Linked DNA regions of Homo sapiens. The protein of the gene in region 1 purifies or fractionates together with the protein of each later gene. This does not show direct contact. Each region holds a gene or a part of one and is shown on either strand. Other genes may lie near its edges.

Region 1 (7,026 bases):
GTCTCCGCTCACTGCAACTTCTGCCTCCTGGGTTCAAGTGATTCTCCTGCCTCAGCCTCCCCAGTAGCTGGGATCACAGGCATGCTGCGCCCCCACGCCCGGCTAATTTTTGCATTTTTATTAGAGACGAGGTTTCACCATGTTGGCCAGGCTGGTCTCAAATTCCTGACCTCATGATCCACCCGCCTCTGACCTCATGATCCACCTGCCTCGGCCTCCCAAAGTGCTGGGATTTACTTTTTATTATTTATTTATTTTGAGATGGAATCTTGCTCTGTAGCCCAGGCTGGAGTGCAGTGGTGTGATCTTGGCTCACTGCAACCTCCGCCTCCCAGGTTCAAGTGATTCTCCTGCCTCAGCCTCCCAAATAGCCTGTAGGCTCAAACCACCACACCTGGCTAATTTTTTTATTTTTTTATAGAGATGGGGTATAGCCATGTTGCCCAGTGTGGTCTCAAACACCTGGACTTAAGTGATCTGCCTGCCTTGGCCTTCCAAAGTGCTAGGATTACAGATGTGAGCCACCATGCTCGACAGTGGCCTGTTTTTGACCAAAACACCATTATGCAGTGCATGACTCCATGTGTCTTGCTCAAAACTGTCCTTATATTCAGCACAAATATAAACCTTTGTACTACTATACAAATGTTACATGGTACGTGACTGCAGTTAGGTACAGCCAACCACTCATCATTTAGGGGAAGTTTTGTATCAGCATAGAGACTACATACAGTAGTCCCCCTTTATTGATGGTATCGTTTTCCACAGTTTGTTACCTGCCGTCAACTGTGATCTGAAAATATTAAATGGAAAATTCCAGAAATAATTTATAAGTTTTAAGTTTGCCATTCTGAGTAGTATGATGAAATCTTGCACTATCCTGCCCTGTCTCATCTGGGGCGTGAATCATCCCTTTGTCCAGTGCATCCACACTGTATACGCTACCTGGCCATTAGTCACTTAGAAGCTATGTCAACTGTGGCAGTATTGCAGTGCTTATGTTAAGTACCCCGCGCTCCCCCCCTTTTTAAAAATAAATAATTGCCCCAAACTGCAAAAGTAGTAATGGTGGCAATTCAGATGTATCAGAGAAGCCGTCAAGTGCTTCCTTTATGTGAAAAGGTGAAATTTCTTGACTTAATAAGGAAGGAAGGAAGTTACATGCTGAGGTTGCCAAGATCTCTGGTAAGAACAAATCTTCTATCTGTGAAACTGTGAAGAAAGTAAAAGAAATTTGTACTAGTGCTACTGTTGCACCTCAAACTGCAAAAGTTACGGCCACAGTGTGTGATAAATACTTAGTTAATATGGAAACAGCATTAAAGGCAAGTACAGGCATCTCCAGGATATTGTGGGTTCAGTTCCAGACTACTGCAATAAAGTGAATATCACAGTACAAGTAACAATAACTTTTGTTTTCCCAGTGCATGTGAAAGTTAAGTTTACACTATGCTATACAGTCTATTAAGTTGGCAATAAATTATGTCTAAAAAAACAATGTACATACCTTAATTTAAAAATATTGCTAAGAATCCTAACAATCATCTGAACCTTCAGAGTCATAATCTTTTTGCTAGTGGCGGGTCTTGCCTCAGTATTGATGGCTGCTGACTAATCCGGGTGGTGGTTGCTAAAGGTTGGGGTGGCTGTGGCAATTTCTATTTTTTTTTTTTTTTTTTTTTTTTTTTTTGAGACAGAGTCCTGCTCTGTCGCCCAGACTGGGGTGCAGTGGCACGATCTCGGCTCACTGCAACCTCCGACTCCTAGGTTCAAGCAATTCTCTTGCCCCGGCCTCCTGAGTAGCTGGGATTACAGGCGCCTACCACCATGCCTGGCTCATTTTTTTGTATTTTTAGTAGAGACGGGGTTTCGCCATGTTGGCCAGGTTGATCTCGAACTCCCGACCTCAGGTGATCCACCCGTCTCGGCCTCCCAAAGTTCTGGGATTACAAGCGTGAGCCACCATGCCTGGCTGAAATATGTTTATTTATTTTTTTGAGACAGAGTCTAGCTGTGTCACCCAGGCTGGAGTGCATTGATGCTGAAATAAATTTCTTATGCAATAAGACTTCAAAGTAAAAATTACTCCTTGATCTGCGGGGCTGTAGAATGGATGTTGTTTTACAGGGATGAAAACAACACTCATCTCCTTGTTCATCCCCATCAGAGCTTGTGGGTGACCAGGTGCGTTGTCAATGAGCACTAGTATTTTGAAAGGAATTTTTTCTTCTGAGCAGTAGTTCTGAACAGTGGGCTTAAAATATTCTGTAAACCGTGCTGTAACAGATGTGCTGTCATCCAGGCTTTGTTGTTCCATTTCTAGTGCACAGGCAGTGTAGATTTAGCATAATTCTTTTTTTTTTTTTTTTTTTTTTTTTGAGACACAGTTTGGCTCTTGTTGCCCAGGCAGGAGTGCAATGGCGCTATCTCGGCTCACCGCAACCTCCGCCTCCTGGGTTCAAGCGATTCTCCTGCCTCAGCCTCCTGGGCAGCTAGGAAATACAGGCATGCACCACCACGCCCAGCTAATTTTGTATTTTTAGTAGAGACAGGGTTTCTCCATGTTGGTCAGACTGGTCTCAAACTCCTGACCTCAGGTGATCCGCCCGCCTTGGCCTCCCAAAGTGCTAGGATTACAGGCGTGACCCACCATGCCCGGCCTGATGTAGCATAATTCTTAAGAGCCCTAGGGTTTTCAGAATACTAAAATGAACACCGGGTTCAAGTCACCAGCTGCATCAGCCTGTAACAAGAGAGTCAGCTTGTCCTTTGAAGCCAGACATTGACTTCTCTCTAGTTATGAAAGTCCCAGATGACATATTCTTCCAATAGAAAGTTGTTTCTCATACATGAAAATTTGTTGTTTAGTGTAGCCCCCTTCCTCAAGTAATTGTAGCTAGGCGCGTGCCACCACAGCCAACTAATTTTTGTATTTTTAGTAGAGACAGGGTTTTACCATGTTGGTCAGGGTGGTCTTGAACTCCTGACCTCGTGACCTGCCCACCTCAGCCTCCCAAAGTGCTGGGATTATGAGCGTGAGCCACTGTGCCCAGCCCATTCAGAAAATTTTTAAAAACAAGCAGGTAAGTGTTTTAAAAGTCAGGTTTTTTGGCTAGGCATGGTGGGTCATGCCTATAATCCCAGCACTTTGGGAGGTTGAGGCAGGTGGGTCACCTGAGCTCAGGAGTTGAAGAACAGCCTAAGCAACATAGTGAGACCCCATCTTTACCAAAAATACAAAAAATTAGCTGGGCATGGTGGCACACACCTGTGGTCCCAGCTACTAGGGAGACCGAGGTGGAATAATAGCTTGAGCCTGGGAGGCAGAGATTGCAGTAAGCCAAGATTACGCCACTGTAGTCCAGCCTGGGTGATAGAGTGAGACCCTGTCTCAAAAACAAACAAACAAACAAAAGTCAGATGTTTTGAATGGAAAGTTAATCCTCTGGATATCGGTTCAGAGGTTTTCTTCCTTATATCCAGTCTTTCCCCCCCTCTGCCTTTTTCCTTATAGATATGTATGTGTATAACATCTGGAAGAGAACAAAGATAAGATTGGACTATGTTTAATACACTTCAGCTTTTCTTTTAGGTCAGAACAGGAGGTTGGCAAGGCAACTGTTGCATATGCTAAAATCTATTTCCCAAATCGCTCCCCATAACCGATGGTCGTTTGGGCTTTCGTCTTACCCCAGCCTCTTATTTCTGCTTTGAGAACACCTTTAGATTTCAGTGGCGTCTAACTGATTTAGAAGACATTGGGTAAAGTAGTCAGTTCTGTTAATTTGCTGTGAATTAAACCATATTCTGCCCACAAGGCTGTGTTTGAGAAATAACTATAGAGAGCTTCAGGGGACTCTCTGGAGCTTGACAAGCTCTCTTGTCAGCTTGCCAACTTGTCCATTTAGTCCAAAAAAAAAAAAATAATAAAGCCATATAGGCCTAGGTTGTAATAGCTAGCACAGCTGTTTTGGTACTGATCAGATGAGGCATGTTGTGTGCAAAGCCGATATTGGCTGTGCACTTTTTCTTTCAGAAAGAACCCCCAAGACCTGAAGGACTTGCCAATACTATATTCTTCCCCCTCCCAGCATTTAGGAAACAATGACTTGTATCATTTAATAGACAAAGATAATATATCTCATAGAAAGAGCCCAGAATTGGGAATCTGAAAAGTGTGTTTCTAGGGAGTTGGATTCTGTGTCTATACTGAACTAACTTTGTAATTCTGGAAGTTGATTTGTTTTTTGTTTGTTTGTTTGTTTTGAAATGGAGTTTTTTTGCTCTTGTTGCCCAGGCTGGAGTGCAATGGTGCGATCTCGGCTCACTGCAGCCGCTGCCTCCCAGGTTCAAGCAATTCTCTTGCCTCAGTCTCCTGAGTAGCTGGGATTACAGGCGCCTGCCACCACGCCTGACTAATTTTTTTTATTTTTAGTAGAGACAGGGTTTTGCCACGTTGGTCAGGCTCATCTTGAACTCTTGACCTCAAATGATCCACTTGCCTCGGCCTCCCAAAGTTCTGGGCTTACACGCGTGAGTTACCACACCCATCCTGTATGCATTTTTTAAAAGGCTGGTTCTGTGTTATTGTTATAGTTATTTAGAAATAAATATTTGGGGCCGGGCGCGGTGGCTCAAGCCTGTAATCCCAGCACTTTGGGAGGCCAAGGTGGGCGGATCATGAGGTCAGGAGATCGAGACCATCCTGGCTAACACGGTGAAACCCCATCTCTACTAAAAACAAAAAAATTTAAAAAAAACTTAGCTGGGCGTGGTGGCAGGCGCCTGTAGTCCCAGCTACTCGGGAGGCTGAGGCAGCGGGGAGAATGGCTTGAACCTGGGAGGCGGAGCTTGCAGTGAGCCATCGTGCCACTGCACTCCAGCCTGGGTGACAGAGCGAGACTCTGTCTCAAAAAAAGAAAAAAAGAAAGGAAAAATATTTGGGGCAAAATATAGTGTTCAGCAAACCAACTTGATTATCTTACCTTCTTATTCAAGTTCATGAAGGCCATTTTTTTTTCCTCCCACAAATTAGAGCCTGGTATTTCAACATCAGATATTCTGTCTTGGATTAAACAAGAAGAAGAGCCTCAGGTTGGGGCCCCACCGGAGTCCAAGGAGAGTGACGTGTACAAAAGCACTTATGCTGGTGAGTATGAAATTAAAGAGGTGTTCATGTCCATATCCAGCTCATGCCAGGACTGACTGAAGAAACAGCAGGTGAAATTTGTAGAGGCAAATATGTGGGAGAAGAATGAGGGAAAGAAAAAGCCATGCTCAACATTATGAATGAAACCAAACAGTCACTAAGATAAATTTGAAGTGAGTGAGAAAATACACTCTTACATGCAAAGACAAATGAGAATTGTCAGAAGAAGAAAAACAAGTGCATACAGACGAACCAAAATTATGGGGATGGGGAAAGACAGAAGACGATTTGAAAATCATGTAGAAAGGGTAGAAAACGTGGGAGTGGGGTGGGGAGACAAGCCCTGGAGACAGAAATGGCCATGGAGAGGTGTAAATGGGAATGTTAATTAAGAGCCCTCCCTCAGTGAAAGGAAAATCAATGATGGGAGAAGAAATATAAGTATCTTCCTTCTAAGATACTTTTGCCATTTGTATTGTAGAAGAGAATCTCAAGATCAGAAGGGTCCCAGTCATTTATACAGCTTAATGCATTCTGTTTTTTTTTTAGTATTTTCTGTGCTCTGTGTTCTTTTAGACTGGGAAACACAAATGAAACATAAGATAGTTTTAGCTCTTGAAAAAACTTATGCTAGGGACATACATATCAGTACTAGGCAAGCCTGTTAAGTGTCAAGGATGAGTGGGGTGGACGACTTATATAAATGAATGAGAAGTTTCAGGAACATGCATCAGGTTTGGCTTGGTGACTCGTGCCTGTAAGCCCAGCATTTTGGGAGGAGGTTGAGGCAGGTGGATCACTCGAGCCCAGGAGTTCAAGACCAGCCTGGGTAACATAGGGAGACCCTGTCTCTAAAAAAAAGGAAAATATGCATCAGTTTTAGTTTAGGTATTTAGATAAGACCTAAAGAAGGGCATAAAGCCACAATTGTACCTTAAAAGATTGGTATGATATGGCTGGGTATAATTTGGAAAGATGGGGAGAGAGGGGTAGCATTCTACAAAAGGGAGGACAGAGTAAGTCAAGATGCATAGCAGAAATGTATACTCTGTTCTCAGGGGAAGTAAAGAGACAGCTGACCACAGTGATGGGTTGATCTGATAGAATACAGAGAAATAGGAATAGATAATTATGTGATTTTAGGCTTTGTCACAACAGGCAATAGAGAAAGTTCTTGAGTAGAGGTAAAATATAGTGAAAGTAACGTTGGGAAGATTGATGCCAAGGATTTTCTGTTTCTTAACAGATAGCATAGAAGAGGTACAGTGTTAAATTTTCTGATGAGGGCTGGGTGTGGTGGCTCATGCCTGTAATCCCAGCACTTTGGGAGGCTGAGGCAGGTGGATTACTTGACACCAGGAGTTCGAGACCCCTGGTCAATATGGCAAAACCCCATCTCTACTAAAAATATAAAAATTACCTGAGCACAGCTGGACGCGGTGGCTCATGCCTGTAATCCCAGCACTTTGGGAGGCCGAGGTGGGTGGACCATGAGGTCAGGAGATCGAGACCATCCTGGCTAACACAGTGAAACCCTGTCTCTACTAAAAAGACAAAAAAATTAGTTGGGCGTAGTGGCGGGTGCCTGTAGTCCCAGCTACTCGGGAGGCTGAGGCAGGAGAATGGCGTGAACCCGGGAGGCGGAGCTTGCATTGAGCCGAGTTTGTGCCACTGCACTCCAGCCTGGGCGACAGAGCGAGACTCCGTCTCAAAAAAAAAAAATTACCTGAGCACGGTAGTGCATGCCTGTAATCCCAGCTACTCAGGAGGCTAAGGCAGGAGAATCACTTGAACCCAGGTAGTGGAGGCTGCAGTGAGCTGAGGTCACGCCACTGTACTCCATCGTGGGCAACAGAATGTGATCCTGTCATAAAATA
Region 2 (7,026 bases), 300 kb from region 1:
AAATGCAACCGCTACTCCCGGAGGGGTCCTTCCTGCTGCACTGAGGTGTGCTCCAAGGGACCCAATGGCCCTCACTGCCCAGGGGCTTGGTGCGCTAGGCCCACTCAGCCCAACTGGGCAGAGCAGGGGCACACACAGGACCCCATCCCCAGGAGTCAGTGGGCCAGGGGTCCCCAACTGGCCAACCTTCCAACACACTATCAGACTCAGTGAGATAGTGACAGAAATGCACGCCCTGAAAACCAAAAGTACCTACAAAATTTAAATAGCCCTATTACTATTTTCCAGCTTTTTCCTCAAGAATTAAAAAAAAACAAAAAACAAAAAACAAAACAGGTTTGCAATTAAATTACTTAAAATTCTACGGCGCTCCCATTTCACAGAGAATTCTACTTGGTTTAGAGGTGGCAGCTGTCCTGGTGGATAGTTTCTCTTTCTCCAGTGATCATCAGTTCAGCAACTTGGACATTTGGTTCTCCCCGTCCCGCGTCTGCCTGAAGCTTCCACGCCGCCCTGCTGCCTGCACACGGGGCTTTTTACACGTGCGGCCGGCAGGGGCTATGGGGCTGGAGGCGCTCACATGTCCCCGCCATCGGTGGGTCCCAGGACGCTGAGGCCACAAGTCCAGTCGGTCACAAGGTCTGTGGAGGCCAAAGGTCCTTTGGAGGCGGGGCTCTTGAAGGGATCAGGAGGTGCGGGCGGCGTCGGGAGTGGCTGGCCTCGGGCCGGGGTCTTGGCGCCCGCTGCATGGTTGCGCTGGTGCTTGCGGAGGTGGTCCTTGCGGATGAAGCTTTTGCCGCAGACGGTGCAGGTGAAGGGCCGCACGCCCGTGTGCGTTCGGTAGTGGTCGATGAGCTTGGAGCGTTCGGTGAAGCGCTTCTCACACTCGGTGCAGGGGAAGGGCCGCTCGCCGGTGTGCAGCATGCGATGGCGGATGAGGTGCGCGGGGCGCGTGAAGCAACGGCCGCACTCCCCACACCGAAGGGCGCTGCCATCCCGTGCGCTGCCCCCACCGCTGCCGCCACCGCCGCCGCCACTGCCGCTGCCGCCACCGCCTGTGCCCGGGCCCGACCCGTCGGGCGCCCCACAGCTGCGCTGGTGCGCGCTCAGGCTGACTTGCAGCTGGAAGCTCTTCCCACACGTGGCGCAGGTGAAGGGCCGGCCCCCGGGGGGCGCCGCGGGGTGCTTCTTCAGCCCTGGCTTGTGGCCAAAGCCTTTGGTCCGGCCAGGGTATTTACAGGGTTCGTTGAATGGCCTTGGGGCCTGGCTGGGGTCCAAGATGGCCTCTCCGTTGTCCGGGGAGGAGTAAGGAAGCCCCTCGGGCCCCGTCCTCGGGTTCAGGCCCACTGGCGGTTTACACCGGAAATTCCAGCCCCACCGGACCCCTCCGAAGAGCCAGTCCCCAGGAGGGGTCTCCTCCTGGGCCACAGCAGGACTGAGCTCACCCATGTCCCTCTCAGGCCGGGCGGGCTCTCGCAGCCCCAGCACAGGGTCCTGGCTGGGGAAGGAGCTGCCCTGGCTTTCCCAGGCTCCTTCCTGGGCAGGACTAGGGAAGAACCGTGTGGCTTGGCCTGGTCCAAACAGGGTCCCGTGAGCCTCTAGGTCAGTAGGATGTACGGGTGTGGCCACCACCTCCTCTTCCTGGACTTCTGTTTTTATTACAATTTTTACATCTGCTGAGAAAGACAGAAAGACAGATACTGACCTGTCCCTTAACTGCTGAGCGAGCCACGATCTGCCACCATCACCTGCTCAGCAGCTGCCTGGCCAGACAAACTCCACCCAGGCCCTCGTGGCTGAGCCCAGAGGGCAGCTCAGCAGAGCAGCCTGGTGGCTGTGAGGCTGCCTCCCCCTCGAGGACACCAGTGTTCTGGCACCTTCACCACAGGACAAGCCACCATATCTGCTCCCCAGGCTCCATTTTTCAGTTTGGCTGTTAAGGCTAAGCATGAATTGATCCTCAGAAAGGAATTCGAACTGCTGCAGGCACTGTGCCCCACCACAGTGCAGGGAATGGGGGTTCAGACAGCTCGGCCACACACCAGCTGTGGGCTGCAGGCAGTTTCTAACCCACAGCTCATCTGTGAATGCCCACTTCACAGGTGTGAGGATTAAACCAGACAACATGTCTGAAAGCACCTTAGTGAGCTATTTGACATGCAGCAGCATTCAATAAATGGACCCACCAGCTAATGATAAAAATATTAGTGAATAAGAATGTGTTTGGCCAGGCGCGGTGGCTCACGCCTATAATCCCAGCACTTTGGGAGGCCAAGGCGGGGGGATCATGAGGTCAGGAGATTGAGACCATCCTGGCTAACATGGTGAAACGCCGTCTCTACTAAAAATACGAAAAATTAGCTGGGCGTGGTGGCGGGCACCTGTAGTCCCAGCTACTTGGGAGGCTGAGCAGGAGAATGGCGTGAACCCGGAAGGCGGAGCGTGCAGTGAGCAGAGATCGCCCCACTGCACTCCAAGCCTGGGGGACAGAGTGAGACTCCGCCTCAAAAAAAAAAAAAAAAAAAAAAAAAAAAAAGAATGTGTTTGATTTTATATAAGCGTACTTCAACTTCACATTCTGAGGTTTCACATCAGGGATCTTGGCTATTAGCACGTTTTTTGGGTGCTAAAATATGACGTTATTATAGTAACAGGTGACTGGTCTTCAAAACAGAAGTAAACAGAAAGCTAACAGATAAATTTGGTGGTGGTTCTTCTGAAATCGGCCTTCAGACACCTGTCTTTGGTAGTACCAATATCTAAGAAGTGGTTTCAGTTCAATTTTGTTTTCCTCCATGCCAGAGAGAAGCCACAGTTTCCTAAGCTGGGGAGGAGGTATATCCTTCAAGAGATAGGCTTGTTAGAATAGACCACTTAACACCATATGAAAAAGCAACAGACTGAAACATGGATGTCCTCAAGAAGGGCTGCTGACACCTATGATTTGGCAAGGAGATAAATAACAGAATGTGCAAAGGGTCATAAGAGTGCAGACACCCTAATGTCTGTTGGCTGGAAGGTCAGAGCAGTTCACCAGTGAAAATGGGATGCCTGGACCGAGGTACTCCCCACAGGCAAGCATGGCCCTTCCCTTCCTCCTCTCGCCACCTGTACCTTCCGTGGAGGCTGCTGTGTTGAGCTTCAGGGTCCCGTCCGAGCATGCTGAAGAGGGATGGTGGGGAGGGAGATCCGTTTGCCAGGAGGTGGGCGGGATGGTGGTGGAAAAGTTGGAATGGACACCTGCGGTAAGGGGAGAGCAGAGCCGGTGGGTTAGGGGACGGACGGGGAGGACAGAAGACTGTTGGGGAGGAGAGCAGGCTAAACTCTGAGGTCCCCCCACTGGGGGCTTTTCTGAGTGGGCACGAGGACCCAACCTCTCTGAACCCAGTGTCTTTTGTCCCCCTTTCTGAGGCACTGGGAAGCTCAGACATCATCAGTATGTTTCCCACGGGCCCCTCTCGAATAGAGGCAGCCAGTGACTTCAATGCCCAATGCTGGGGCAAGAGAAGCGGCCTCACGGTGATATAGGGGCCACTGGAACAGGGCCAGAGAGACACCCAGGGACAGCATCAGCCACCCGAGAGAGGCTCGAGACAAGTCCTTTAGTACAGTCCTACCTCGAGACGGGAAAATTTCTAAAGTTGTCAGGCCGGAAGTGTTGAGGGCCCACAGCTCCCCCATGCTGCCACGAGCCCTCCCCTGTCCCTCCTGTGATCCCTGCAACTTGTTCCTTATGTCCCCGTCTCAGCCACTTACCAGAGGTGGCATCCGTGGAGATGTCTCCTGCTCCGGAATCCAGCTGGCTGAGGCCCCAGGGCTCCTCCCCAATATCTGGCTGCCCGGCTGCCCACGCCTCCACGCCCAGGGCCTGCTGCTCCTGGAGCTGGAGCTCACCCTCCTGCTTGATCTGCATCAAGAGGTCTGGGGCGGGAACTGGGGGCCCCGAGCCTAGGAAAGGGAGTGAGTGTGAGGATACAGCATCACGGCCCCTCAGCCCTGGGGCATACACGCATCCAGCCGGAGAGATAGACACAGGGGCCTTACAAGGGTCCAACAGCAAAAGAGCCTGGTGGGAAGGGAGGCAGCAGCAAACAGGATGGGAGCCTAGGGCAGAGCCTGAGGTCACATGGTATTGGGAATGCGGGTAGGGTAGGAAAGGCTGAGGCGGGGGAGGGGAAGAATACACAAGCACATTCTCAGGGCTAGGCTGGTGGTCCAGAGGGAGACTAAGTTGCCCTGGGGATGGCCTGCCCTCACTTGAAACACAAGAAATGCTGAACAAAAGTGAACCCCAAGTCCCCCCAAAACCTTCCCCCCTCATATATTTAAGTGAGTGCAAAAGAAAAGATCCCAGAGGCAAGAATGACAGAGAACACACAGAGTCAATCACGAGTTACAGTGGAAGGCAAGTGACCTAGAGAGTTGTTGGAGTAGGATACAGGCCTTAGGGGCTGGGCTTTCATGTCCATGTGAGGTTGGGAGTGTGGCCGAGCCGCCTGCCTGAAGCCAGGAGTCATAGGCTCTGGCCTGTCTGTGAGATGGGGACTAGGAAAACTCTGTCTGCCTGCGGGAGCCACCAGGAAGCAGCCTACTTGTCCAGGGCTATGTGTGGGAAAGAAACCCATAAAAACTTGGAATCCCATGTCCACACAGAATTCACACTACCCACACGGGCAGACACCATAAACTGAGAAATTCACAGAAAAATTGGCTGAGAGCCATGGCAACTCAGGAGGCCCCAGCATGGGCAAATGCAGATCTGCCTCAGAGGGGCACCCACACAATGCAGTCCACAGGGGGCTCCTAAGGGAAAACTAAAACCAGAAGAAAAACTAAAACTTACAAAACAGAAGAGGTGCCAAATGGCCATGAGAGTCATGGCAGAGTTCACTCCCAAGAACTAATGAAAAAAAGGAGAGGCTGAATGATACAGTAACCTAAGTATGTCTAAGATCATCAAAGAGATAAAGAACAGAATCTTTAAGGCAAGAACAGCAAATTATTTTGAAAAAGGCAGATTTGAAAAAGAACTCAACATTCTAGAAACGACAGAGGCAGCTGTGGAAATGAAAAACTCAAATGGATGGCTCTGGCTCAACAACAACAGACTGAACACAGCTAGAGAGAATATTAGTGACTTGGGAGAGAGATCCAGGGAAATAACCCAGAGTACAACACTGAGAGATAAAGAATGAAAAATATGAAAAAGTTAAGAGACCTGGAGGACAGAATGAGAAATTCCAACACATGCTGGTAGAAATCCCAGAAGAAGAGAATGGAGAAATGAGTAATGGCAATAGGTAAAGAAATAATGGTTGAGAATTTTCCAAAACTGAAGGCATTGTTAAGTCCACAGTTTGAAGGAACAGACCAATTCCCAAGTAGGTAATAAAACAAACAAACAAACCTAGACAACATTCATGTGAAATGGAACCACAGCAAAGACAAAGAGAAAAACCTTAAAAGGTACCCAAGAGAAAATAATGACATTCAGACTACAGGAGATTTTCTTCAGCAACTAGGATATCAGAAGACAATGGAATATCTTCAAATGTTGAGAGAAAACATCTGTCAACTCATTTTATGAGGCTAAGACAATTTTTATTGCACAAACTAGAGGGGTAGTATATGAACAAATTTAAAAAATAATCTCATATATGAACAGATATGCAAAGATTCTAAATGAAAGAATTACAAATCAAACTCAGCAATATATTTTCAAAAAAGAAAAAGACATATTATGAACACATTGGGTTTATTCTGAGAGCTCAAGGATAACACTAGAAAATATAACGAACAAAGTTAAGATTAATAGCAAAAACAATATAATCATCTCAACAGATGTAAAAACAGCATTTAGCTCTTCTATTTCTGACATATGGCTGGCTAGATGTGCAGAGAAACAGAAATTCCTCCCAATGTGGAATATCTAAAATTGCTGAGTAGGCTGGGTACAGTGGCTCATGTCTGTAATCTCAGCAGTCTGGGAGGCTGAGGTGGGAGGAGCTCTTGAGCCCAGGAGTTTGAGGCTGCAGTGAGCCATGTTTGTGCCACTACACTTCAGGCTGGGTGACAAGGTGAGACCCTGTTTCAAATAAACAAACAAAAAAAGCCAGCCTAGGCAACATAGAAGACCCTGTCTCCACAGAGGGGAAAAAAAAAAGTTTTTAAAAAAAGTTAGCCAGGCATGGTGGCATCCCCTGTGGTCCCAGCTACTCAGGAGGCCCATTGTGGCCCAAAAACTTCCAGGTCAAGACTGTAGCTTGAAGTGGTCCTAAGTCTGCATTGGCATCAGATGACCAGCTGAGGAACACACACACATTCTCAGGAGGAAAGCATTTTAAACATAGCTTTCAAATAATCAATGAGCTCACAATTACACATCACCATCTCGAGAAAATCAGCACCACAAACTCAGCAGAAATCATGAACTGGAGAATATGACCAATGACTTTGGATATTAAAATTATCATATAAGGAATATAAAGTTCAATTATTTACAGAAATAAAAAGGGGGAATGAAAGTATGGAGAAATAAGACTATCAAAACTGACCAAATTTTGAAAAAGAATCAAATGTAACATTCTTTAGAATGGTGAGAAAAAATAACTGTTGTTTTGTTTGTTTGTTTGTTTGTTTGTTTGAGATGGAGTCTCGCTCTGTTGCCCAGGCTGGAGTGCAGTGGCGCGATCTTGGCTCACTGCAACCTCTGCCTCCCGGGTTCAAGCAATTCTCCTGCCTCAGCCTCCCCAGTAGCACTGGGACTACAGGTGCATGCCTCTAGGCCCAGCTAATTTTTATGTATTTTAGTAGAGATGGAGTTTCACTGTGTTGCCCAGGCTGGTCTTGAACTCCTGAGCTCAGGCAATCTGCCAGCCTCGGCCTCCCCAAGTGCTAGGATTACAGGCGTGAGCTACCGCGCCTGGCTAATAACTGAAATTTTAAAATCCAATGTGTAGGTTAAACAACAGAATGGAAATGATTGAATGGTGAATAGTGAACTAACTAGAAGATAGAAGAAATTAT

What was found. Proteins that work in one complex are often made in the same cells at the same time.
Region 2: the proteins of ZNF398 (region 1) and ZNF746 purify together in Homo sapiens (affinity purification with mass spectrometry; 2 studies listed by BioGRID and IntAct, with this or other methods). This does not show direct contact.

What each region holds. Positions count from the first base shown.
Region 1 is NC_000007.14:149,171,433-149,178,458, forward strand, and holds part of ZNF398 (zinc finger protein 398), read left to right. Parts: intron 1-5,035; coding exon 5,036-5,149; intron 5,150-7,026. UniProt on the Homo sapiens protein: Functions as a transcriptional activator.
Region 2 is NC_000007.14:149,473,808-149,480,833, forward strand, and holds part of ZNF746 (zinc finger protein 746), read right to left. Parts: intron 3,949-7,026; coding exon 3,757-3,948; intron 3,241-3,756; coding exon 3,115-3,240; intron 1,677-3,114; coding exon 577-1,676; 3' UTR 1-576.